4 linked regions of the Homo sapiens genome follow. The protein of the gene in region 1 interacts with the protein of each later gene in a biochemical or structural test. Each region holds a gene or a part of one and is shown in the gene's direction. Other genes may lie near its edges.

Region 1 (4,619 bases):
TCCCGACCTCGCTCCCGGCCCCACTTAAGCCGGGTTCGAGCTGGGAGACGCAGTCCCTTCAGTGCGCCCCAAATCCTCTGGCTTCAGGTGGCCCGGCGCGGGGGCCCAGCACGACGCACCGCGCCGAGAACCGGGTTCTCCGTGCGCTGCGCCAGTAGCCCTGGGAGCGCGGCGGCCGCGGGGCACCGGCCGAGGGCTCTGCCGAGCGCCGCCGGGAGCTCCTCCCGGACCGCTGAGGCTCGGGCGGCGGGCGCGGAGGTTGGCCTCGCCTGGAGGGGCGGGCCCGCGAGGGGCGGGGGGCTGTGGAGGAGGGGAGGGCGCGCAAGCCCTTTCGCCGCCTGCCGCGGGAGGGGCCTCGGCGCTCACGTGACTCCGAGGGGCTGGAAGAAAAACAGAGCCTGTCTGCGGTGGAGTCTCATTATATTCAAATATTCCTTTTAGGAGCCATTCCGTAGTGCCATCCCGAGCAACGCACTGCTGCAGCTTCCCTGAGCCTTTCCAGCAAGTTTGTTCAAGATTGGCTGTCAAGAATCATGGACTGTTATTATATGCCTTGTTTTCTGTCAGTGAGTAGACACCTCTTCCTTCCCCCTCCCCGGAATTCACTCTGCCCTCACCACCCCTGCTCGCCGGCTGTCCCTTCCGTCGGACCTCCTTTACAATATCCACACTCTGCTCCCTGGCAGCACTGTCGCTCCCTTCTTGGCCCGGCAGCCGGGGCGCTGGAAGCGTACGGGTTCCTTTTAAAGTGCTGCTAGCGCGCACTCGCCCTCTCAGCGTTGCAAGAAAGGGGAGCGCGAGGGAGCTAAAGAGATGAAAGCCCGGGGTTGTACCTTGAGGGCTAACCACTCCCTTCCCCTATCCAACTTGTCTGGGAGAGCCCCCAGTGTCTCCGTGGCGCGTTCCCACTCTCTTGTCAAAACTCACAGAGGTCTCTCCGGAATCGTCTCTCACCCCTTCCCTGGGGATGAGCGGGCACGATCAGGCACTTTTGGCTGAATATTTCAAACTCATCGGCCACAATAAAATAAGCCCTCAAGCCACCCGGTTAGCTCCCAGACCACCTTCTCGGCTTCTGGACCCTGTCGCCCTCTGTCTTCGCCCAGCCCCTGCCTCTCACTTTCCCTCCCTCTGGCTCTGAACCAACTGGAAGTTGTGAAAGTTGGGCTCTGAGGGTGGAGGAAAAGGGAGAGAAGCTGAAGGTCTAAAGTGGAGAGCAATGCCATTTTAATTCTCCCTCCCCCACCCCTTTTCACCCCCTCAATGTTAACTGTTTATCCTTCAAGAAGCCACGCTGAGATCATGGCCCAGATAGCAGTTAGGACAAAAAAAGATTAACAGGATGGAGGCTATCTGATTTGGGGTTATTTGACTGTAAACAAGTTAGACCAAGTAATTACAGGGCAATTCTTACTTTCAGGCCGTGCATGGCTGCAGCTGGTGGGTGGGCGGGTGGTGTGAGGGAGAAGACACAAACTTGATCTTTCTGACCTGCTTTCCATCTTGCCCCTCCATTTCTAGCCCTAAATGCATATGCAGACACATCTCTATTTCTCCCTATTTATTGGTGTTTATTTATTCTTTAACCTTCCACTCCCCTCCCCCTCCCCAGAGACACCATGATTCCTGGTAACCGAATGCTGATGGTCGTTTTATTATGCCAAGTCCTGCTAGGAGGCGCGAGCCATGCTAGTTTGATACCTGAGACGGGGAAGAAAAAAGTCGCCGAGATTCAGGGCCACGCGGGAGGACGCCGCTCAGGGCAGAGCCATGAGCTCCTGCGGGACTTCGAGGCGACACTTCTGCAGATGTTTGGGCTGCGCCGCCGCCCGCAGCCTAGCAAGAGTGCCGTCATTCCGGACTACATGCGGGATCTTTACCGGCTTCAGTCTGGGGAGGAGGAGGAAGAGCAGATCCACAGCACTGGTCTTGAGTATCCTGAGCGCCCGGCCAGCCGGGCCAACACCGTGAGGAGCTTCCACCACGAAGGTCAGTCTCTTCCCCCAGTCTGCGTGGGGGAGGGCTGGTGGGACTGGCTAGAGGGGCAGTGAAAGCCCTGGGGAAGAAGAGTTCGGGTTACATCAAAGCCCCAGTCCAGGAGGCTGAGGAACAGAGCTGCTTACCTCCAAGAATTTGCAGAGCTGCCGCCGAACTTATTTTTTGGAGACAGAGGGGGAGGTGTTCAGGGGAAGGGGAATGACAGCACTCAGACGTGGGCTAGCCCCAGCGGTGTGTTTTTGCTATATCAAAGCCTTTTCTGCTAGGTTTTCTGCCCGTTTTTTTCAAAGCACCTACTGAATTTAATATTACAGCTGTGTGTTTGTCGGGTTTATTCAATAGGGGCCTTGTAATCCGATCTGAATGTTTCCTAGCGGATGTTTCTTTTCCAAAGTAAATCTGAGTTATTAATCCACCAGCATCATTACTGTGTTGGAATTTATTTTCCCCTCTGTAACATGATCAACAAGGCATGCTCTGTGTTTCCAAGATCGCTGGGGAAATGTTTAGTAACATACTCAATAGTGGAAGAGGGAGAGGGTGGTTGTCTGCATGTTTCCTCCTGCCTGTGCTCTGTTGGCCCCTCTTTTTCTTTACAACCACTTGTAAAGAAAACTGTGGACACAAAGCCAAGGTGGGGGGTTTAAAAGAGGAGTCTGATTGTGGTGCCATAGAGGAGTTGACACATAGAAATTATTAGACATATCAAGGAGGCTGGATATAGTTTCTGTCTTTGGTGCTTGAGAAATGCTAGCTACATTTTGCTGGTTTGTTAGCTGCCCCACTTATCTGCTCCTTCAAATTAAGGGGTATGCTTATTTTCCCCCAGTAGGTTTCCCCTGCATAAGCAGAATTCACCATTCATTGCCCAACCCTGAGCTATCTCTTGACTCTTCCATCTTTGAAAAAAGTTCATATGCTTTTTCTTTTCCCCTTCCTTCCTAACTGTGCCTAGAACATCTGGAGAACATCCCAGGGACCAGTGAAAACTCTGCTTTTCGTTTCCTCTTTAACCTCAGCAGCATCCCTGAGAACGAGGTGATCTCCTCTGCAGAGCTTCGGCTCTTCCGGGAGCAGGTGGACCAGGGCCCTGATTGGGAAAGGGGCTTCCACCGTATAAACATTTATGAGGTTATGAAGCCCCCAGCAGAAGTGGTGCCTGGGCACCTCATCACACGACTACTGGACACGAGACTGGTCCACCACAATGTGACACGGTGGGAAACTTTTGATGTGAGCCCTGCGGTCCTTCGCTGGACCCGGGAGAAGCAGCCAAACTATGGGCTAGCCATTGAGGTGACTCACCTCCATCAGACTCGGACCCACCAGGGCCAGCATGTCAGGATTAGCCGATCGTTACCTCAAGGGAGTGGGAATTGGGCCCAGCTCCGGCCCCTCCTGGTCACCTTTGGCCATGATGGCCGGGGCCATGCCTTGACCCGACGCCGGAGGGCCAAGCGTAGCCCTAAGCATCACTCACAGCGGGCCAGGAAGAAGAATAAGAACTGCCGGCGCCACTCGCTCTATGTGGACTTCAGCGATGTGGGCTGGAATGACTGGATTGTGGCCCCACCAGGCTACCAGGCCTTCTACTGCCATGGGGACTGCCCCTTTCCACTGGCTGACCACCTCAACTCAACCAACCATGCCATTGTGCAGACCCTGGTCAATTCTGTCAATTCCAGTATCCCCAAAGCCTGTTGTGTGCCCACTGAACTGAGTGCCATCTCCATGCTGTACCTGGATGAGTATGATAAGGTGGTACTGAAAAATTATCAGGAGATGGTAGTAGAGGGATGTGGGTGCCGCTGAGATCAGGCAGTCCTTGAGGATAGACAGATATACACACCACACACACACACCACATACACCACACACACACGTTCCCATCCACTCACCCACACACTACACAGACTGCTTCCTTATAGCTGGACTTTTATTTAAAAAAAAAAAAAAAAAAGGAAAAAATCCCTAAACATTCACCTTGACCTTATTTATGACTTTACGTGCAAATGTTTTGACCATATTGATCATATATTTTGACAAAATATATTTATAACTACGTATTAAAAGAAAAAAATAAAATGAGTCATTATTTTAAAGGTAAATCATGATTTTTTTTTTCTCCTTAATCCTTTCTCTTTTCCTTCGGGCTCATCTCTTTTGAATGAGGCTTTTTTCTGTTCAGGTGAGTTGGAGGCTGGATGGAAGTCAAAAGGTGGTACCTGGAGGTGGTTAAGTTGTAGGGACAGGAAGTAAACTGTTGGCAGAGAGAGATGGTAATTGCCAGCATGAATTGTTTTCTATTTCTATTTAATGTTAACAAGGATGCAGTATCCTCTCCCATCTGGATGACACATGCCTTGGAGAAACACTGGGATGAAAGGAGTGTAGGTCAGATTAAAGACTTCATTTCAGGCCCCTTGTACATCTTCTGTTTCACTCACCTGTTGAGGTGTATCACAGCTGAGCGTGATGAGGTCTCAACCCTAGAAAAATGATACCCACCTCTGCTTTCATGATACCTCAGGGTATCTCCAGTTATTACAGGTACCAATGTGATATTTCCAAATCAAAACTAATTTGTACACTAACATCATAATGTGTGTGTGAAGGCATGT
Region 2 (7,752 bases), on another chromosome or scaffold:
TGAGCACTTTGGGAGGCCGAGGTAGGCAGATCACTTGAGCTCAGGAGTTCAAGACCAGCCTGGGCAATATGGCAAAACGCCGTCTCTACAAAAAAATGGAAAAAAAAAAATTAGCCCGGTATGTTTGGCACACGTCTGTAGTCCCAGTTACTCAGGAAGCTAAAGTGGGAGGATCACCAGAGCCTGGGAAGTCAAGACTGCAGTGAGTGGTAATTGCATCACTGCACACCAGCCTAGGTGACAGAGTGAGACCTATCTCAAAAATAAAAACAAAAAACAAAACACTTGAAATTAAAACAATAAAATATAAGCTCAATTATTTTATAGTTTCAACAGACGTAATTATCAAGTTTCTACAAAACTTTGTGAACAATTGTTGTCTGTGTCCATACATATCTCATTAAATATTAGTAACAAATCTTTTGAGACCAGCACTGGCTTAAGACCTACACTTTGAGTAGTGCAGGTTTACTCCATCATCCTTCCATTTGATATTGGTTTAAGGTAATAGATCTCAAATCCTGAACTATTCTTTGTCGGGTATGCTAAATGCCCAACCTCCTGCAGAGTATTTAGTATCCTAGTCCTAGGACACTAAAAACCAGTGCCATCACCCTTACTAGTTATTGTCCAAACCAACACCTTTCCCACCTCCTACCCACCAATGGGGGAGCATCAGCAACGCCATAATTTGGAACCACTTGGGGGTGTGGGTTCTGACAGTTGCTCAGTAGTGTTAGCGTAGGCACTGTGGTTATCAGCCTGGGGAGGAATTGAGTCCTAGCACCTGTTCAAGAAAATTAAGCACCTGTGGTAATGAATTTAAAGTGGAGGGTGGGAAAGAATCCTTGCCAAATTATGCCTATTAGTTTTGTTTCCTACACATTTCTTGAATTTTGAAGGGGGCGATAGTGGGGAGAAAAAGTCAAATATTACCTTTGGGATGTTGGGATGTTGAGATTTATATTACATCACAGTTTCTCTTAACTCTTCTAACTCACTTTCTCCTTCACCTAAAATCTTTTGTCTTAACACTTTTCCCCTTATCCATTCCCACATTCTTATCCTCCTCGATATGTCTTTTTGACCCCATTGGCACAGTGCAATGCTATACAGATGGACGTTAAGTAGAAGGGGAGGAATAAATAGCAGCAAAAGCTAGGATGTAGAGAATTTTCTTCCCACCTTGGGCACTTAAGGAGAGGGGGATATTTATAAAAGATACATCGATCATTTCTCCCTTCCTTGGACTCACCAAGTTACCAAATTTATTCCCCATGCATTATGCCTTACAGCGTTGGCATATAAGAAATTCGTTACTTGTGCCACTTCAAGAATGCCCATGTCATCTGAACACAGATTTTTATAGTAGCTAGAAAGCAGCACGAAAGCTTCTAAGTCCTTCATTTAAGGGGAACTTAACATCCTCCATACTCCAAAGGTTTTCAGTCATCTTCCTGAAGATGAAGGAAAAGAGATTAGACGTGTGTTGCTGAAGTGTCTGTTGGTGGGTCCAAACGCAAGTTCAATTATAACCCAGTTCATTTCCAGCTCTACTTCAGAACTGAAGATTTAAACTTCTCCACATCTTTTTGAGCCATGACTTTGTTAACACAAAAAGAAATCTTTTATTCTGGAAGCAGTCTGTGTCACTTATTTACCTCTACCTCCTCATCCAGCCAACACTCTAGATTGAACTGGCTTCTCAAGATTCTTCCACCTGGGAATAATTTTCAGTTCAATTGAACTTGGCAGGACTCTGAACTTCAAATTCTAGCATTGGAGTGGCCATAAGGCTAGGTCTTGGGGCTGGGAAGTGAATGAAGTTAGCTAAAGATGTTTATCTCATAATGCCCGATGCTCTGGTCGATTAGAATTCATGTTTCCTTTTCCTTTCCTCTCCTTTCTCATTTTCCTTCCCAAACCAGGTTTTACACCTTGCAATGTGTTAGGAAGTGGTTGTTGGATTTATGGATTTTAAAAAGTGATTCTAGAAAACAAGGAGGAAAGAAGGGCAATGGGGTTAGCTGTAGCTACCTCTTTTTAAGCTTTGAAGCTCCGGTGGAAATTAGTCACAATTCCTTGTCTTTTTAGGTTACATTATTTTTGAATTAAAAAAAAAAACGAAGGGGTAATTGAACACATTTAGGAACAGAATAGCTGCGTTACTGGTTGTTAATACTTTTCCCATGGGGTTTTCTGTCTTTGTTAGAAAGGAATGTCCTCGTGAAGACTGGCTGCTTCTCTTTAGTACTACAGAAAAATAATTTTCATGCTCTCGTTCTTATAATGGCAAATTTAGTTGGTAAGATAAGGAATATATTTACAAGTTTCAGTTGTATTACTCGCTATTCCAGTTATTCCACTTGCTCAGGCTTCACAATTAAAGAAATACTGAAGTGATGCACAGATAAGACAAGAGTGGGGCCTGACCCTAACTGACATCAAATTCTCTAATGAACTTCAAGTGTTTCTAGAGTAAAATATACTCTTCCATTCCAGAACCGTTAGTACAACTCTTAATTCAACCAGAAAATGGAAGGCTTACACATATTCCTTTGACCAACTCATAAAGATAGGAGAACTACATGAGATCATTCAGACACCTTTAATACCGACTTGGGACTTTGTAACTGTTCCAACATCAGTCAAATTCTGAGCATCACGATTTGAGAACTGGCAATCTTGGAGAGATTTAAAGAGCCACGTTGATTATTAATAACCCTGATAAGTTGTAGAAATGGGCAGATAATTACAGGATGAACTTAATAGACAGAAATACAGAGTAATTTAGAGGAAGTAAACTGCTGTAAATATAAGTGAGAAGACTTGGCTTTGTGGGAAAAGGTGGGAATCAGTAAACCACAAATGAAACATGAATTAGCCATATTATACAGTTGTTTTATTAAAAACCAAAACTTTGTAGAGTACATTAACAGAGACTGTATTTAAGAGAAAGGCAGTCATCCCTTAGTCATTTATACAATTATTTATTAAGCACTTATGTGCTAGTTGATACTTCTGGGTGCTGGAATAAAATAAGGAAAAAATCAAGATCTCTACCTTCACGAAGCTCACTAAAGTGTGGTAAATGACAGAGCAACTACCTTCAATAGTCTCTAGTTTGTATTCTGCAACCAACTGAATACAGCAAATACTAAAAGCTACTTGAGGTAGGGATCCATCCTATTTTTACCTGTTGGATCCCATTCCGTGCCTAGCACACCAGCTTGTAAGCAATCGACATGGATTAAGGGGTAAAAACAGGCCCTTAAATAGCTAAAATTTTGACAAGTAATCACTTGTCTGATCATCAAATATGTCGTTCGAAATCCTCATTTTTTTCTTCAAAGCGCAGTAAACAAGTATTTGCGCACCTATTACGTGCAAAACAGTTTTCAACACAATGCTTTGTGTGTAAAAGGAACGGCGGGAATGGATTCAAGTTGCGCATCGTGATAAATGGCGTGAATATCCTGAGCGGGTGGACAGCCCTTCCTCCGTGAGTTTTTTCTTTTTCTTTTCTAGTCACCAAGACAGCACGCGTGTGCAGAAGCTGCAGCGGTGGGACGCAGTGCTAAGTCTGGGGGCGCACACACCAGCTCGCGCGTCGCGAGCTCGCCTGGGCAGCTCGGCGGGCGCGGCGAAACAGCTCCCACGTCCGCCTTCCACCGACTCCTCGGTATCAGAGCGGACGAGGCGTCCCCCCAGAGGAAAGACTGGGCGCCGCAGACGCCCCTTGGAGAAGTCCCTGGCCACTCGCCCCACCTCGGGGTCCTCTTCCTCTTGGGCTTCTCCTGACCCTTTGGGTGGGCGCTCCAGACAGGCCCGTCGGACGCGATTTGGAAACGGGTCGTGCCCGGCCTAGCCCGCATCTACTCGCCCGGCCACAGCCCAGCCACAGCTTAGGGACTTTGAGGCGCCCGCGCCCCTTTGTCGCGGTATCTCTAGCCCAAGCAGGCCGGACGCCGAGGCCTCGCGGTATCGAGCCTCCGTCCGCCCCGCCTCCTCGCCCTCCACTCCGCCCCGCCCTCGCTCTCTCACCCCTCCCCCGCTCCCGCCTCGCTTCCCCGACAATCTCCTCGCGCTCCCGGCCCGGCACGCGCGCTGCGCCCGGCCGCCGCTGCCGCCGCCGCCGCCGCCGCCGCTGCCGCCGAGCGTTCCTCCGCTGCGCCTGGCTTCCAGCTTCGGGCCGGAACCGGAAGTTTGGGGGGCGGAGCCCGGCGGAGGCCAGGAGACCGAAAACGCGGCCGAGCCCGGAGCCCGGAGCTGGAGCCAGAGCCTGGACCAGAACTTGGCCGCCGCCTGCACCGCCGCCGCCGCTGCCGCCCGCCGCCCCTTCCCCGCGCCGCAGCCGCCTCGCCGCCACCGCCGCGAGCTCGGCCGCCAGTGGTCCTCGGACTTTAGGTGTCTGGGTTGAAGGTCGGTCCGGACATCGGACCCAGTCAGTTCCCAGACTGTCCGGGCGGCAGCGGACGCCGCTGCCGCCGCCGCCTCTTCGTCGCCTCAGCCTGGCGTTTTGTTCCGAGAGACGGGAGAGGCGAGCGGAGCTGACAGTGATTTTGACAGTGATTTAAACCCGCTTTTGTTGTTGTTGGCTTTTCGTTGTTTGGTTTTGTGTGTTGTGCGTGTGTGTGGCGGTTTTTCCCCCGTGGTGCATTTTATTTTTTATCGTTGTGCTCTTTTTTTTCTTTTTTTTTTTTAACCCAGTGAGCGTTTTTTTTTTTTTTTTTTTTTTTTTTTGGTCTGGGCTTCCGAATATGTTTTATGACGGTTGATTTTACACCAGGAGGTTTGTCTCCGAGGAAGACCCAGGGAACTGGATATCTAGCGAGAACTTCCTCCGGATTCCCCGGCGCCTCGGGAAAATGGGAGCTGCTGCAAAGTTGGCGTTTGCCGTCTTTCTTATCTCCTGTTCTTCAGGTAGGTGCAGGGAGCGCGGCGCGGTGGGGCTGCTCCTGCGGCCGCGGCGGCCGCTGCTGGGGGCCGCGGCTGGTGTTGAGTCGGAGAGTCCAGTGGAGCCTGGGGAGGTTGCCCACTCCCTGCGCCCCTCGGCTGCCACCGCCCCCCCCCCCCGCCCCCAGGTCTGATTGTGATCTGGAAACCTCCATGCATTTTTCTCTTTTTGAGTTGGGTCGGCGAGCTGATAAGAGTGAGTGCTGTGTTGTTGTGGAAGTGAGAAAGTCATGTTTTGTGGCCATAACACTGGATGACAGCGCTGGTTGGGTTGCAATTAAGCCGCAAATACCACAAGTGACAATTTATGCAAAGGTTGAGATCTGAAAGGAGTATTTAGTGTGGGCTCCTCCAAAACAAGGGTTGCTTTTTGTCATCGTTTAATTAGTGCTTCACCGGTGAATATCACGACATAGATCAAGCCAGTTGCTGCTTAATTTTGGCTGTGGGAAACAATACATCCTATCAGCAATTTAATCTGGGTCTCCCCTCACGTTTTCTTCAACTTCAGCGTCCAGCAGTGTTAAAAATAGTTGTAGTTGTTGTTGGAGTATTAACTATAACCCAGTGCAGAAGAGGTATGCCGCTTGGTATTGGTAATGTGCTGGCGTTCAACCACCATTTGTGTGCTCTTTTGGGGCATAGATTTTGCTTACCTACGGAATACTTATTTTAAACGCTTTGTATTGAAGCATTGTTTTCGGTTTAGAACAACCCATGTGAAATTGTTTTTGTTAAATATAGTACACTCATAAAATAGGTTTTAGCTCAAGGTTGGGGGAATAAACGGGCCATTTTATATTGGAAATTTTGATTTTGTGAGGACGTTCTATGGTTGCAACCAGTGGTTGGAAAAACTATCTAGTCTTTTGTATTTGAAATTCTATAAATAAATACAGCATCTAGCTGAAAGGTGTGCAGATGTACATAACAGGAGAGTTAGTTCAATAGATGAAACATTTTAAATAAGTCTCATTGGATCTATTTATTGTAAAATTTAATATTCAGTTACAAGCTTGTGGCATAGAATTACGGGGGACTCTTGGAAACGGGGGCGAATTGACAGGTTTCATGGCCATGTCTTTATCTCGTTTGCCACAGGAAAATTAAAGGGTGGTAGTCTTCTTTGTGTACCTCTGTGGGGTGTGTGTGTGTGTGTTTGTGTGTTTGTGTCCGTCTTCCCCACCCCCCTTTAAATATAATCTTTTGTAATGTATAGAATTTTGCTGAATGGTACATTTCCTTGTGGTTAATAAATGGATAAAGTCTAGTCTTATGTCTGTAGTGGTATTGATCAGTTCCGGGTGGGCTGAATGTGTTGTGAAATGGCGATCATTGCCAGAGATTAACCAAAAGAATCATGTCTGTTTAAATGGAAGAAGGAACATGCTTAAGGCAGGCTGACAGTTCTTTTTGTGCACGGTTTGGGAAGGAAGCTAAACAATGGTGTGTCTGAAATGAATGAAGGCCTTGATAACATTAAACCTCTTGCTTTTGTGACATGACTTAACCATGTAGTTTTTATCTTTCCAGTAGTACTCTTTTTTCCTCTGCTTCTATATGTTGTGGCTGGTGAACTCCTCTTGTTCAAATCCCTTGTTCTGATCTCTTGCCCTTGAGGAGGAGGGGCATCATGGCCACTGACCAAGGAATTGTGGACATTATTCCCTCTCAAACCCACCTGAGTCACACTAATTGATGAAGGAGGTTATTCTTGAGCAGTCTCAAGGTATTACTTCTTGAAAAGCAGGCTGTCGCTACAGATCTTACAGCTTCTTCTGCTTGGTTTGGTAGTAAAAATAATTGAGCATTAGTTTCTTGTGGGATTATTTTCATTGGGCCAGGATTATTTTCAGTGGGCCAGGAGGTTAATAGCTATAATTTTGAAATAAAGTGATTTTGTTGCTGTAGGGCATATAGATATTCCACTTATATTAAACTAATATTATGTTGTTGCATAGGCTTTTTAAGATGAACATTCCCAGTTGAACTAAAATATGTGATTCTGTTGAAGATAATTGAAATAATCATAAAGACCTTAATCCATATTTATACATGAACAATTTGAGTACTTAAAATGTCTGATTTTTAAAAGCCTTTTGTTATGGATCAGATGCACTCTAAAAAAGGATTATTATGTTTCTCCAACTAATTGATTTTTCTACAAAATGTGTGATCTGACATGTTGGAAGCATGAGGTGACTATTTTTATGAGAATTTTAAAAATTCTCAGGTTGTCAGTTTTTCATTTCTAGATATTTGATTTTTTTTAAAAATCAAAATGGGAAACAATAGTAAGGAACAGTTTTGTTCCAGGTGTTTAGGAGGGATGTTTACTATTTCGTGGACTCTGATTTTTCAGTTTCCATCCCATGGTATGTATTCTGGAGACTGATTATGCAGACTATTCCTGTAGGATATGGCCAAGTGTATAATTTCCTCCTCTCTCTCATTCCAGGGGAAACATTTTAAATTTTGCCCCTATCCTGGAGTGCCTTCAGATTACCTTTGATTTTGAATTTTTTCATTCCTCTCATACTTTCTCAGATTCTGTTTCAAAACATAAATCTTAGTTTTCTTTTTATAGCATTGTGGTTTATTTGTGTCTTTCCCCACAGTTTGTTGAAGTATGAGAATGACTTTAATACTTGCTTTAGTACTTAGATTTATCCTATCTAGAGTTATGCAGCTATTGTGGTATTTGAGTTGCATAGAAGTAAGTTGAGAATTCCTTTGGATTTTGTGGGAGCTGGAGCAGTATGGTCAATGTATTTGATGAAAGAGGAAATGGAAATA
Region 3 (7,029 bases), on another chromosome or scaffold:
CAGAGTCTCACTATATTGTCCTGGCTGGTCTTGAACTCCTAGCCTGAAGCAGTCCTCTCACCTCTGCGTCTCAAAGTGCTGGGATTAAAGGCATGAGCTATGATGTCTGACCTAAAATTATTTTTTAATAATTCATTTTGAAATAATCTCAAATATAGAGAAATTTGCCAGAAGGATAAAAAGATTTATATTTTCCCTCACCCAGATTCCCCAGTTATTAATACAGCCACTATGGAAAACAGTATGGAGCATCCTCAAAAAACCACAAATAGAACTACCATATCCAGCAATCCCATTACTATACATTTATGCTAAGGAAAGGAAATCAGTATATCGAAGAGACATCTGCACCTCTGTGTTTATTGCAGCAGTATTCACAATTGCCAAAATGTGGAGTCAACCTAGATGTCCAACAACAGATGAATGCATAAAGAAAATGTGGTATTTATACTCAATGGAATGCTATTCATCCACAAAAAAGCATGAAATTCTGTCATTTATGCCAACATAGATGGAACTGGAGGACATTATGTTAAGTGAAATAAGCCAGGAACAGAAAGTTAAACACCACATGCTCTCGTTCTCACTCATATGTGGAAGTTAGAAAAAAGTTCATTCCATGCAAGTAAAAAGTAGAACGGAGGATGGTAGAGGCTGAGAAGGATAGGAGGGTAGAGGGAACAGGAGGATAGAGAGATATTTGTTAAAGGATATAAGATTACAGCTAGATAGGAGGAATGAGTTCTCTAGTGTTCTCTAGTTCTATAGGATGACTATAGTTAACAATAATGTATTATACATTTCAAATAGCTAGAAGAAGGATATTGAATGTTCCAACACAAAAATGTTTGAGATGATGGATGTGTTAATTACCCAGATCTGATCATTATTCATGATTGTATTGAATCATCACTGTAACTCATAAGTATAATTATTATGTCAATTTACAAAAACATTTTATCATTGCATTTGCTTCATTGCTCAATACCCTTCCTCTCCCTACAGACACACACACATGCATGCATGCACACACACGCACGCACACACATGATCATTCATGTTTTTTTGAATCTTTGCAAAGCAAGCTTTACAAACAATGTCCCATTACCACTAAACACTCCAGTCTATATTTTCAAACAACAAAGATATTCTCCTAAAAATTGGCATACAGCCCTCCAAATCAGGAAGCCAATATCAATATAACATTGCTACCCAATCCACAAACCCCATTCAGTGTCACCAGCTGTCCCAGTGGTACCTCTTCTTTCTTTCTGGCCCAGTGTCCTATCCACGAACATGTGATGCGTTTAGTAGTTATGTTTCTTCAGACTCATTCAATCTGAAGCAGTCCTTTAGTCTTTCTCTTGACAGTGTTAAAGAGTACAGACCTTGATTATACAGGATTTCCCTCAGCCTTGATGTGCCTGATGTTTACTTGTGACCAGACTTATGTCACACATTCTTGGCAACATCACCACCTCCCATCACTGGTGATGTTAACTTTGATCTTCTGATCATATTGGTGCCCGCCAGACTTCTCCACATTAAAGTCATTATTAATGACCTTTTGTAAGTGATTAGTATTTTGTGGAGAACTTTCCAAGAATACATCAGTATATTCTTATCTAACAGTCACTCATCAGACTTAATATCCATTGACCATTCCCATCCGAATCAAACCCCTGTGATAGTGCCAAATGGTGATTTTCTGTTTCCTTTCTTCTACATTTATCAGTTGGTAAGGAATATCATTCCCTTCTCTTGTATTTATTTATATATAAGAACTTATTGATTCTTGTTTTGTTTACAAGATGGTAATCCATGTTTATTGATTGATTGATTGATTGACATGGGGTTGCCCAGGCTAGAGTCCAATGGTACAGTGATAGCTTACTGCTGCCTTATCTCCTGGGCTCAAGAAATCCTCCCGCCTCAGCCTCCCAAGTAGCTGGGGCTACAGGCATGCACCACCACACCCAGCTAATATTTTTTATTTTTTGTAGAGATGATGTTTTGCTATGTTGCCTAAGCTGGTATCAAACTCCTGGGCTGAAGTGATCCTCCCACCTTGGCCTCCCAAAGTGCTGGGATTATAGGCGTGAGCCACTGCGCTCAGCTTATTATTATTTTAATGCTCAAATTGTCTATTAGCCAGTAGGAGCCCCTTCAGTTGTCCTCCTGTGTCTCTTCAGCATGTCCCATCATTCATGGTGCACTTCCTTACTTTCTGGCACAAATGTGTTCCTGGCTCACTTTGTACTTTCCTGACCCAGCCTTCAAATCAGTCTTTCCTCCAAGGAGCTCTGGTTCCTATTATGTATTTAAAAAACAAGATCTGAGCGTTCAGTATGCTTGAAGCTACTGGGGTAGAAGAATATCATCATTTAGGCTCACCCAGCAAAAAAAAAAAAAAAAAAAAAAGGTAGGAAAATATCCATGTGTAATCCTAGAAGTTACATAATTTTAATGTGTTATAGCTCTGATTGCAAGGCAGTAACTAACAAAATCTTATGATATTACCCCCAACCCAGGTATGTGTAATCCTCGAAATTATAGTGACACACCTCCAACTTCAAAGAGCACAGTGGAGGAGCTGCATGAACCGATCCCTTCTCTCTTCCGGGCACTCACAGAAGGAGATACTCAGTTGAATTGGAACATCGTTTCTTTCCCTGTTGCAGAAGAACTTTCACATCATGAGAATCTGGTTTCATTTTTAGAAACTGTGAACCAGCCACACCACCAGAATGTGTCTGTCCCCAGCAATAATGTTCACGCGCCTTATTCCAGTGACAAAGGTAACTGCCAACAGTTGACTTTTTCCATTCCGCCCCCTCATGTGGTCTGTCCATGTAATCTATAAAACCTATATAAGACCATCTTTTGGAGCAGCCTTTTGGTTTTGAATTTGTATCATCTCACATAAATTCTAGACTCAATAACCCTGATCCCATCATATCTAGAGGCACATGCCAGAAGGATAAGAGAAAAAAAATATCTCCAATCCTTGAGTAGATAAAAAGGCATGTCGGCTGGGCGTGGTGGCTCATGCCTGTAATCCCAGCACTTTGGGAGGCCGAGGCAGGTGGATCACGAGGTCAAGAGTTCGAGACCAGCCTGACCAACATGGTGAAACCCCATCTCTACTAAGAATACAAAAATTAGCCGGGTGTGGTGGCGGGCGCCTGTAGTCCAGCTACGAGGGAGGCTGAGGCAGGAGAATTGCTTGAACCTGAGAGTCGGAGGTTGCTGTGAACCGAGATCACACCACTGCACTCCAGCCTGGGTGGCAGAGCAAGACTCCGTCTCACCAAAAAAAAAAAAGATAAAGAGGCATGTCAGCATATTGTCAGAATTCCTCCATACTCCTGGCAGCAGAGGCTGTACTGTATTGGAAAATAGATAATTGTTCCTAATTCTGGTATTTATTTGTGCTAGGCTTTATTCTGTTCATAAGATAGCAACAATGCTGCTTCTCTAATAAAATATTGCTCATTGTCAGGTGACATTCAGAGTATCCCATGAAGTCAGATTTTTATAATAGCACCCGTACCAAAATGATGCCAAAGTCATTAGCTAAATTTCTTTATAAGCAAGTTGGTATTCCAGACATCTCATTTCCAGGCATAAACTAACCCCAGCCAGTTCTCTGCAAATGGGTGCTGTTGGTCAGAAAAGGAATTAAGTGAGAAAATAACTTATACAAATTACAGAAGCATATTTAAGAGCATTTATTAGTGAAGATAGGTCATATCATAATTTTGGAATGTAAAGAGCATGTGACTTTTATAAAATCTTTGATATTTTTTGACAAAAGGCACCATATAATTTTACTGTGGAAGCATAAAGCACTTATGAAAATTGCAATTATTTCTTAAAACATGAGGTGAATTATGTATAAATAGTATAATTTGTACTCTTACTTGACTATTAGTTGTGCCCTCCATTACATTCCTACCTATATAAAACAGTGCGGGCTGGGTGCGGTGGCTCACGCCTGTAATCCCAGCACTTTGAGAGGCTGAGGCGGGCACATCACCTGAGGTCGGGAGTTTGAGACCAGCCTGACCAACATGAGAGACCTCGTCTCTACTAGAAATACAAAATTAGCTGGGCGTGGTAGCACATGCCTGTAATCCCAGCTACTTGGGAGGCTGAAGCAGGAGAACTGCTTGAGCCTGGGAGGTGGAGGTTGCGGTGAGCCGAGATCGCGCCATTGCACTCCAGCCTGGGCAACTAGAGCAAAACTCCATCTCAAAAAAAAAAAAAAAAAAAAAAACCAAGAAAACAAAAAACAGTGTGAGCTTCGAACATTAATAGTAAAAGGCAAAACAGCTTCTGTTAAATGACAGTGTAAGATTTCTTATTCCCTTTTAGGTTAAAGTACTTTGTAAAACAAATGCTAGATTTTGGAAAACATTAGAAACATATGGAATGCAATAATAATATGTTTTGTTATCATTTTCTCCATTATTAAAATGTAAGTAATCAACATAACAGATATTAAATAATAATTCATAAATTTTGCTCAAAGATTATTTAAATTTATGAAGCAATTAGCAAGAAGCTAATTCCTGGAAACTCCAGCTGTCTTCAAGACACAACTAAAGTTTTTTCTCTGTGACATCTTTCCTGGGCACCTATTCCCCCAGATAGAGTCAGTCTCTTTCTACTGCTCCTCCTGCATTTGCAGGTTTTTGTTTGTTTGTTTGTTTGTTTGTTTTTTGAAATGGAGTTTCACTCTTGTTGCCCAGGCTGGAGTGCAATGGCGCAATCTCGGCTCACTGCAACCTCTGCCTCCCAGGTTCAAGTGATTCTCCTGCCTCAGCCTCCCGAGTAGCTGGGGTTACAGGTACCCACCACCATGCCCGGTTAATTTTTTTAATTTTTAGTAGAGACAGGGTTTCGCCATGTTAGCCAGGCTGGTTGCAAACTCCTGGCCTCAGGTGATCCACCTGCCTCGGCCTCCCAAAGTGTTGGGATTACAGGCTTGAGCTACCATGCCTGGCCTGCATTTGCAGTTCTGTTTGTTGTCTGTTTTTAACTTATGGATCTATCATTTTCTACTTAGTTCTGTGGATTCTCTGATTCCTCTACTAAAAATATAAAAATTAGCCAGCTGTGGTGGTGCATGCTTGTAATCCCAGCTACTCGGGAGACTGAGGCAGAGAATCACTTGAACCTGGGAGGCGGAGGCTGCAGTGAGCCAAGATCACACCACTGCACTCCAGCCTGGGTGGCAGAGTGAGACTCCATCTCAAAAAAAAAAAGGAAATGCCCAGTTTAAAAGCACAGCTGTATAACATAGCAAATGTTTTTAAGCCCAATAATCCAACTTTTCGATCAAAGCCTGAAATCTAATAAAAGAAGCTAAGGAAGCCCTTTGCCTTCTTCAGATGGAGTGGGAGAATCTGACTTCCTTCTCAACATAATTAATAAATGAAGATCTTTTTTCCTGTACCTCATCTTTGTCATGTACAGACCAGTAATAAGAGAACCAAGATAAATAACTGTTAATATTCAACTAGGTAATAAAGCATTTTATTTTTTTGTTTTTCTTCTTTCTTGCCCTGAAATCTTAAATTTTTGTTTTTCAGAACACATGTGTACTGTGGTTTATTTTGATGACTGCATGTCCATACATCAGTGTAAAATATCCTGTGAGTCCATGGGAGCATCCAAATATCGCTGGTTTCATAATGCCTGCTGCGAGTGCATTGGTCCAGAATGTATTGACTATGGTAGTAAAACTGTCAAATGTATGAACTGCATGTTTTAAAGAAGACAAATGCAAACCAAAGCAACTTAGTAAAATAATAGGTATAAAAAGTTATTCTGTAAGTCTGTTGGTTGTATCTTGTATCAGAATCCCAGTAAGTTAAGTTGTAAAGACTTTGGAATAAGTTTCTTTTAAAAATATGACATAGCCAGTGATGTGTTTAATTATATAACTGTTCTTACTGATTTTATTGCCCCCTAGCAATAAGCCCTTTCCTTTGAATACATGTACAACTTTGGTCATATGAGAAGCAGGTGCGCAGAGAATTCCTTGAAAGATCTGAGGTTTTTAACATGAAGTCTGACGTGGTTTTCCTCTAGCATTCCAAAAGGTTTTTGCTTTGAAAGTGTTAGCAGAAGCATGTTGATGTGAATTATGATTTCTTCATGTGCTACTGTTAGCACACTGAGTTTTTATAGTTGCACATCATTCCTCATTGTGCCTTGTTTTATCCATTTTATAAATAGAGTAGATATTTGATATACCACTCTGATAACTCATATAAAAATATCATCATAAAAAGCTTAATTTCATCCCTTTTATGTTGGTTTTAAAAGGTAAATGCTTACCATATTTTATAATTGAGAACTCTTACATAGTAGAATCCATTCTATAATACATGTGTTGACAAAGCTTTAGAGAAAGTTTCCTATTCTCTTCCATTTCCCCTGCCCAAAGTGCTGACATAGGCAGTGATGAAGAATCTTTACCAAGATTTTCAGGGTGTACCTATGAAATTGCTTTAAATGCACTGCTGGTGTAAATAATTAGCAAGCAAAGCGTTTCTGTGACTTCAGGTACCAGCTTAAAGAGCACTAGGGATGGGGAACGAATGCCAAATCAGACTCCACCTAGAGCACCAGGAAACAGCTTGTACCCTGGTAGGGAAATGGTGTTGCTGAAAGGGGAGGCTGAGCCAGTGCGAGACTGAACTTGTGCAGCCTTAGCCAAGACAAAGCAGTGTTTTTCAGCAGACGGCTGATGGGACAGGAATTGAAGAAGAGAATTGACTCGTATGAACAGGACAGGGTGAAAATGCTGGGAATTATTATGGGAAACAAAACTATCTATGTTCATATTTTGTAATATTTCATTTGTTAAGTTTATATCTGGATATAATGTTCTTTTTAAACAAGTATAATCATATCGTCGGAGGTTAAGATTATGAAATTTTAGAATCTCTATTCAAGATGATGTTCACTCCAAATACACTACAGAATTTAGTCAACATTTTATATAATGTTTCAATA
Region 4 (7,738 bases), on another chromosome or scaffold:
GCCTTGGCCGGGGCGCGGAGTGGGAACAGCCCGCACGCGTCCGCTGCCGCCCTGCCTGGCGACGAGTGGCACAATCGCCCACCAGGAATCGGCTGGTGCCGCGGGTGGGCGAAGGCAGCGCCGCCGGCCCGGAGGGCGGCGCGGAGGGTGGCGCTGGCGGCGTGAAAGGCGTCTTTGTGCAAGATTGAGTGTGGTGGGGGGAAGGCGAAGAGAGAACTGATCCAGGACCTGGACGCGGGGGTCTGCGGCGCCCCTACGCCCCCACGCCCCCAGCCGTCCGCAGTGCCGGAATGAGCCGGATAGCGCCGGCAGGGGGCAGTGTGGCGATATAGGGGTTGCCGGGGGGAGAGGAGGGTCTCTGTTCACCTCTATTTGAGGCTGACTGGGGAGAAAGCTGCCTGGAGGAAGCTGCTGGGGTGCGGGGGGCTGAGGGATTTGGCTCCCCGCCCTCTCCCCTAGATGGCGGAGAAATCGGGCTAGCTGGAAGGGCGCAGCTCCTCTCCCAGAGCTCATTCTGGAGTCGGAGAACTGGGAGAGCGGCCCCCGAGGCGGAGCCTCCCTCCCGCCCCGAGTCGCGCTGCCCCCCACCTGGGGGAGAGGGGCGGGCGCCGCGCTGCCTTCCCTCCGCGCCTCGGCCGCGTGGCTTGCGGCTTATTTTCCCAGCTGGCAAGCGTCGCGCTGCAGACAAGGGAATGCCTGTGGTGAGTTGTTTATTTTGTTGAAGTTTGCGGTGGGCCCGGGGGACGTGGGGGGCGAGCGGCAGGCAGCGGCCGGGACTGTTTTGTTTAGGTCTCCATCCACCTGTGGGGTATAAATCTGCCAGCCTCAAGGCGGCGGGGGACCGGAGTGAGAAAGCTCTGACGCTCCCAAAAGCCCCTTTTCGCAACTTACAGATCTAGGACCACATTTGATTCTCCACGCCTGGAACCGGCTAGATCCTAGTTTACGCTCACCCCGCCCTCCAGCCTCCCATCAACGCTTCCCGCACCCGCTGTGTGCAGGGCTGGCGCTCCGCAGAGCAAACAGCGCCCACGACCCAGGGACAGCTGGCCACCGAAGTCCCTCCCCGGCGCCCTTCCCCGTTCCTTGAGGATAGGGGAGCTGAGGTTTTCATGTGAAGGGCGCCCATGAAATTCGTGGGAACTTGTTCTGGCGTCTTCTGGAGTGGAGTTCTTTCAGGGGTTTCGGGTCTGCCCGGGACTACAAAATGGGATCCTGGGTTGGCTGGAGTTTCCCAGACTAGGCTGGAGAGAGGTCGGCTGTTGGCTCGCGGGAGAGCCCAGAGGAACCCCTTGGGCGATGGCAGTCAAGACCGGCGGCTGCGTTTGCCTGGAAGAAAAGCCTAAATACATTAGCGAGCTGGTAAAGCTTTTAAGGCCTTCTTGGGAGCGAGTGGCTGGCTAATGAGAGGTTAATTTTGTTTCGAAGGGAAGGCTGCACTGGTTTCCTGAGATAAATGGACAGGAAGCGCATTACCTCCGCGCGCTGGCAAGCGGCTCCCAAATGCTTTTTGCACCTGCCGTTTTGAGCGGTGAGAGCAGCGGCGGAGCCCGCAGGGATTGCGGGGGCCCGTTGTCTACGAGCGGGTGATGAGCCCCCCGCAAGCCCCGGGCTCTCTCCCTCCGCGAGTGCATTGCTCACGCCAAGCTTTGGGACTCTTCTCTCACACCCAGGTCCTGCGTGTTCCGAAGTTCAGGGGCCCCCTGATCCCGCTGAGCCCCCTCCAGGAGCGAAAGGGTTAAGAATGATGTAAGTACAGGCACTTGATTTCTCAAGTCGCCCGCTTGGCCCTCTTCCAAGTTGTACTTTCCTTATTTTCTCTCCTTTCCTTTCCTTACTGTTCTAACGCTTTTTAATAAACTTTCACTCTTGCTCTGAAAAAAAAAATGATGTAAGTACAAACCACGAGCTGCTTGACGCTGAGCTGTTGGACTCCGGGCTATTTCAGCCGCTGCTTTGGGTACACAGTGGCCGGGGAGCAGCCGGGGAGCCCTTACTCTAGAAAGGATTGCACAAATCGCAAGCTTAGGTGATCTGTTAAGCAGTCAGAGATTCTCCTGTTAGATTTCTGGAAATGGAGACATATTAACTGGAGAACAGTTAAAAACATCACGTATAGGCTCAGGAAATGAAACTGCATCTTGTTTAGAATCCATTAGTGTTTCTGGCATGTGTTTTAATTCTGTCCACTTGCACGTTCATGCCGTAGTATGCTTTGCTGGATTCTCCGGATGTACTGTTCAGGTCTCCTCCTTCCTTTCTGAAAACAAAGAGAAAGGGAGAAAGAGTACCAGTGGCAAGAAACAGGGTGGATGTGTGAATTACACAAGTCATCAGCCACTTCATGATTTTTTTTCTGATTAAAACATAAAACTTTTATAAGTCACCGATTTTTTTGTTTGTGTTCTAGCTCCCTCCCCGATTTTTCTTTGTACAATATAAAGTCGTTTGTAACTTGCAGCTCACGGGCTTGAGGAGTGGCTGCGGTATAAGCGACTATTCACTACGCTCTTGCTTTCCAAGCCAATTCCTGATCTTGTGAACAGTACGAATTTACCCGCGAGTGTGTCAACTGACCTATGTCTTGAAAATAGGAACCACCTTGCGGTTTACTTGTGAAAATTAGCATTTTCCTCTAGCGGCTGAACACTTATGCAGCAATAAAAAGTGAATTGTTAGGCTTATAAATCTCGAGCTTGTCAAATTTTACAACAGAGGAGCAATAAAGCACCTTATAGAGATGAAGTTTTTCCTCTGAAGAACAGTTCCGTTTAACGACACCAGGATTTGCAATGACTCGAGGACGCCCTCTATTGATAGGAAAATCTAGAGCACCCGTGTACTTATGGAACAGGATATAGGGGGAGGGGAGTAAAAAATCATAGAAAGTCACGAGTGGAAAGACCCAAACCAAACAGAAATTATTGATCCTTAACTATTGAGTATATGCTTTGAAGTATGATCAATAAAGTGAGATGCTGCTTTTATAGGGGTCGAATTAAATCTTGGGTTAAGAGAAAAAAATGTAGTCTTTGTTAGCCAAATACTTTGAAAATCAGTATTATGTTTGATTACTTTTTTAAGATGCTTCTTAGTATGTCATGAACTGTATCTAATTATATGAAGTAATTGCAAGATAGTAAATTTTTGCTCTAATAATACTTAGTCCGCAGCATTATCTAAAAATGTCATATAACTTCCTCCCCAAAAGTCATTTCTCCAGGCAACTGTGAAGCTATTATTAAGCGTATTATGGATATACACAGGCTTGGATTATATTGTGGATAGTGAAAGGTGTGTTTACCCCTTAAGTCATCATAGTATGTAACAAGTAAGTAATGAAAAGTTACAGTAAAAACAGATAGGCATCCTTCATTAGGGACCTAGTGGTTTGGGCAATTCAAAATGTGTCTAATAAGTGAGCTGGTGAGACTGAAGGTTTGCCCCTCAATTATCCTAGTCCATTGATTAGCTCATTTAAACATGTGTGGAATATCAGCATGTCCGTGGTTGATAAGAAATTCCTAATTAGAGATTCTGAGTAACATAGCGGGTACAGTTGCCAACTACGATTTGGATGTTAGTGGATTTTAAATGGCAACCCTGTGCTGTTTGGGGAAAGGCAAAGGCGAGGGCGGTATCAAGTGTCTCTCAGCCTTGAGGTCATTCTTGAGATTAGATACCACTTCACACCTACCGATAACAAATTGGAATCTATCATCAGTCTCATAACTGCTTTTCTGTCTCCACTTGGCAGCCTCTTTCTTTGTAGACAATTGTCTTTTTCCTCACTTTCGGACCCATCCGATCATAAAAGGAGAAAGTGAGCTGCCATTGAATTAATCCGTAGAAATTTGTGGAAAATTTAAATAATCTGTAGAAATTTGTGAAAAAGCCACTGAGCAACAACAAATCGTGGCATAATTACACTGCATAAAAACCCACCACTCTCATTAATTACACTGTAACCGAACGTTGAAGTTTGCCCACTCTTAGACCTCTCCTTGCCGCTTTCAGGAAGGGAAATGTCAAACTAGAACACCTGAGCCTCGCACAGCTGCCAGCGAATTCCGGCGGCAGTTCGCGGGTACCTTCCCAGCCCATCCTATCTGCTCCGGACCGCGGGTGACATTCAGATTTCCAACACCGCCCCGAGCTTGCTTTACCAGACACCCTCAAACGACTCGGAACGCGGTTCCGCAGATGTGATTGGCTGAAAGGGGACCTGCCGCGCGGCGCTCTGTAAAAGCGCCTGCTTCCTCCAAGGAGGTGGAGCTGAAGCTGGCAGGGCCAGGGCAGGGAGGGGTAATTAAATTAAAAAAAAAACTTGGAGGGAAGATGAATCGGATCACATTAATTCAAGGAGAGGTCAAAGGCCGGTACCTTTGTAACGCCGGCGAGAGTAAGACTTGCGGTCGCCCATTTCTGTTGGGCGCGAGGAAACAGTAAATCGCGGAAGGGGGTAGAGGGGGAAGGAAAGGGAGCGCGAGGCAGCATGCGGCGCAGGAGAGAGGACTTGGAGTCGATGGACAGGGAACTCGAATTACACTGAGCGGGCGGGGGAGAGGGCCCTCTGGGTCCTGCGATTGGCAGGCTGAGTCGGGCTGACGTGCGGTCACAACCAATGGGGAGGAAGGGAGGGACACGGCGGGGGATTATGGCGTCGTGGATTGGCGGGCACAGGGCGGGGCGGGACGGCAGTGCGGGACTGAGATTGATCGACCGCGGGGGCTGCCGCGCAGAGATATCCGGGCCGCCGGTGGGTGGTCGCTAGGGCTGGGCCAGCCTCTTGGAGGTCCACGCCCGCCGAGCCCACGCTGGCTGGGGCCGGGGTGCCGGCGCGCTCGGGACTCGTCTCAGCAGTCGCTCACGGTCTTTGTGTCTTCTCTTCCGCCCCTTTCCCTGCCTGCCGCCTCCGGCCGCCACGATGCCCCTGCGCCCCGCTGCTGCCGCCGCGGACTGGCTGCGCCGGCTGCGCGCTGCTTGCTGCGGCGGTGGTGGCGCCCCATCTGCTACACGGGCCTGAAGAAGGAAGAAGAGGAAGCGAAGCGCGCCCCCCGGCCCATGCCGCAGCCACGGGCCCAGACCCGCCACGGCGCCCGCGCCGCCGCCCTCGCCGGAGCCCACGAGACCTGCATGGACGGGCATGGGCTTGAGAGCAGCACCTTCCAGCGCCGCCGCTGCCGCCGCCGAGGTTGAGCAGCGCCGCAGCCCCGGGCTCTGCCCCCCGCCGCTGGAGCTGCTGCTGCTGCTGCTGTTCAGCCTCGGGCTGCTCCACGCAGGTAGGACGGGAGCGCGCGAGGGGAGCCAGCCCCGGGGCCTAGGGCTTTGTTCCCAAATAGCCCCAGGTCTCGAAGGCGCTCGCCGGGGCGGAAGGGCGGCGTGGCGCAACGGGAAAGGCCTCCCGAGCCCCTGACACGCACCTCTGTCGGGCTCCGGGCCACAGTAACGCAGCCACCCACCGGGCGGCCGCCGGGCGCAGAGACGAGCCTTCTCTCCACCCTCCCCGCCTTCGGCTCGGACCGCTGACAAATCTCCCCTCCGACAGCCGCTTATCAAACATTTAGCGGGCGGGGGCCGCGCGCCCGAGACAAATGTTCCGGATGCTTTATTGCTCTCTGCGCTGGTGTTTACTGAAAGTCAGGCTCGGATCAGGTTTCCGCCGTCGCAGCCGCCTCGGAGGGAGACAAGGAGCCTTGTGCTGCTTTTCTGGAGTTGGGGGTGGCGGCGAGGCGAAGGAAGTACACCAGATGGAAAGATTTTTACCAGATTTTGCAAACCTGGGAGTTAATCTCGAAGTAACGTCAACTTTTTTGAGCAGGGATTTCTTTCGTTTTGGCAAAAGCTGCGTTTGTTCAGCGATCAGCCTCCCGGGAAAAGCTCGTGTTTTGTGACTAGCCGGGTGTCTTCGGGCTCCGTGAGGGGTTGACAGATAACCATGCTGCCTTCTGGAGGTCGGCGCTTCCCCAGCCTTGAGGCGTATGTTCCAAGGGAAGTAAGCCTGCAAATGAGCCTTCTACCATGTGATACCTATTTTTCTTTTTAAAAAATCGTTTCATGAAAATCCAGGACGCTCTTCACACTATTTTTTTCTAGGAATTTGCCTAGACAAAGAATTTTTTTTAATGCTAAGGTTGAAAGGGTCATTTTCCTTTAGTCTTGAGAACAAACAGCATTAGATAAGTTTCTTTTCCTTCCAGACCTTTTTTGTCCTGTATATATGAGACACTTCACAACGTTCTGGTCTGGAGAATCCTGAACTTCGATGCCACCCAACTGTGCGGAGTAATTTTTACTTATTAAACCATACCCGCCATGCTAAAAATCAGGGAGGTCTTTTAAGTAATGGGGGGGAAAATGTGACATCTGAGGAGACTTAATTTACTTTGCGTAGCTTTGCATTATGATGTAATAGCTGCTTTTTAACACCGACAATTAGGGAAAAGACGGCTTAATAAAAAAGTGTAATAGAAAGTTTTAGGATGATTACGGCTTTCAATTAGTAACCTAAGAACCTTAGAAAATAGTGTCAATCTGCATGTAGTTACGTGGAAAATTTTTCTTGACATGTTAAAAGATATATTCAGGAGTGTTTGTGCGAAAAATATGTGTCCATAATACCAAAATGTAAGTTTCATGAAATGGAAATTGTGCTAGGTGGGATTGTGTCCCCCTTGGCTGCTTGGATATTGTTTCCCATAGTTGCCATAGGATCCTGTGACAGAATTGGAATGTGGTCCCTGAAGGTTTCTTTGCTAGCCCGTGAAAGGCATACTAAGTTGGCTTAAAGGTTTAGAAAAGTAGGGTGTCTTCGTTCAAGAATTTGGAATGTGAAGCTCCCAGTATCTTCATGTGTCCTCATTTAAGTCACCATTAGATTCAGCCCAACAATGTGGTAAGCGATTTCTATGGACAACTTGTTGGAGTGAAGCGATTAATCCTGTTAAAGAAAAGAACGCTCCTTTTGAGAGATTTCTTTGAAGAGTGGTGCTATTTAAATGCCCGGGTTGTTTCTCAGATAAGGGAACCCAGCAAGAGTGCCAGTGCTCTTTGCAGATGGACTACTATATGTTTTATGCCTGGATCCTTATCATCTGCCTCAGCACCCCATATGGCTCCACATTTCACTTAATTCAGCTTCAGAATACCTCATTTCTTTTATTATAAACTGGTGATTGTGCTGCAGATTCACACGTGTAGTCCTGGTGTTAAAGAAACTGTCTTGAATGGTGAGGTCTTTATGTCTGATTCATTCAAAAATGATGAAATGAAAGCTCTAGACCCACAAATGCTTTAGCATGTTCAGTAACTGGTGTGAAAATACTGTCACACTGATCACAGATAATCTGACCCAAAAATAGAGAAATCTGTAGCTGCAGAGTTTTAATTCTGCCCTTGGGGAATGAAAAGAGTATGAAAAGAGTACCTTTAGTTGCTTTATTTTATTTTATTTTTTTTAAGCAAACCTCTGCAATTCCTGAATAGAGATCCAATATGGGAGTTACTTGCTTACTCATACACTTCATGGCCTTCTTGGCTACATCCTTGAGATTGTTTCTGCTCCGCATTGTCTTGGCATTTTGACAGGAGGCTTACTTTACCGCCTATAACAGGCAAAGTGTGCGTTGTCGTTATAAATTCATGAAGCCTGGATATTTCTGGGTGTATGCTACAAATTAGTCATTATATAGAAGCCCACAAGGCAGCTGAAAATGCTGACCCAATCGCACTTTCTATT

What was found.
Region 2: the proteins of BMP4 (region 1) and ACVR2A form a complex in vitro, tested with the Homo sapiens proteins (one study listed by BioGRID).
Region 3: the proteins of BMP4 (region 1) and TWSG1 form a complex in vitro, tested with the Homo sapiens proteins (one study listed by BioGRID).
Region 4: the proteins of BMP4 (region 1) and RGMB form a complex in vitro, tested with the Homo sapiens proteins (one study listed by BioGRID).

The regions. Positions count from the first base shown.
Region 1 is NC_000014.9:53,949,223-53,953,841, reverse strand, and holds the end of BMP4 (bone morphogenetic protein 4 isoform a preproprotein), read left to right. Parts: intron 1-441; coding exon of another isoform or gene 442-566; intron 567-1,612; 5' UTR 1,613-1,619; coding exon 1,620-1,989; intron 1,990-2,953; coding exon 2,954-3,810; 3' UTR 3,811-4,106; downstream 4,107-4,619.
Region 2 is NC_000002.12:147,840,285-147,848,036, forward strand, and holds the start of ACVR2A (activin receptor type-2A isoform 1 precursor), read left to right. Parts: upstream 1-4,744; 5' UTR 4,745-4,868; coding exon 4,869-4,923; intron 4,924-7,752. UniProt on the Homo sapiens protein: On ligand binding, forms a receptor complex consisting of two type II and two type I transmembrane serine/threonine kinases.
Region 3 is NC_000018.10:9,393,749-9,400,777, forward strand, and holds part of TWSG1 (twisted gastrulation protein homolog 1 precursor), read left to right. Parts: intron 1-2,531; coding exon 2,532-2,798; intron 2,799-5,597; coding exon 5,598-5,779; 3' UTR 5,780-7,029. UniProt on the Homo sapiens protein: May be involved in dorsoventral axis formation. Seems to antagonize BMP signaling by forming ternary complexes with CHRD and BMPs, thereby preventing BMPs from binding to their receptors.
Region 4 is NC_000005.10:98,768,925-98,776,662, forward strand, and holds the start of RGMB (repulsive guidance molecule B isoform 1 precursor), read left to right. Parts: upstream 1-4,738; 5' UTR 4,739-5,028; coding exon of another isoform or gene 5,029-5,146; coding exon 5,147-5,282; exon of another isoform or gene 5,283-6,265; coding exon of another isoform or gene 6,266-6,278; intron 6,279-7,738. UniProt on the Homo sapiens protein: Member of the repulsive guidance molecule (RGM) family that contributes to the patterning of the developing nervous system. Acts as a bone morphogenetic protein (BMP) coreceptor that potentiates BMP signaling. Promotes neuronal adhesion.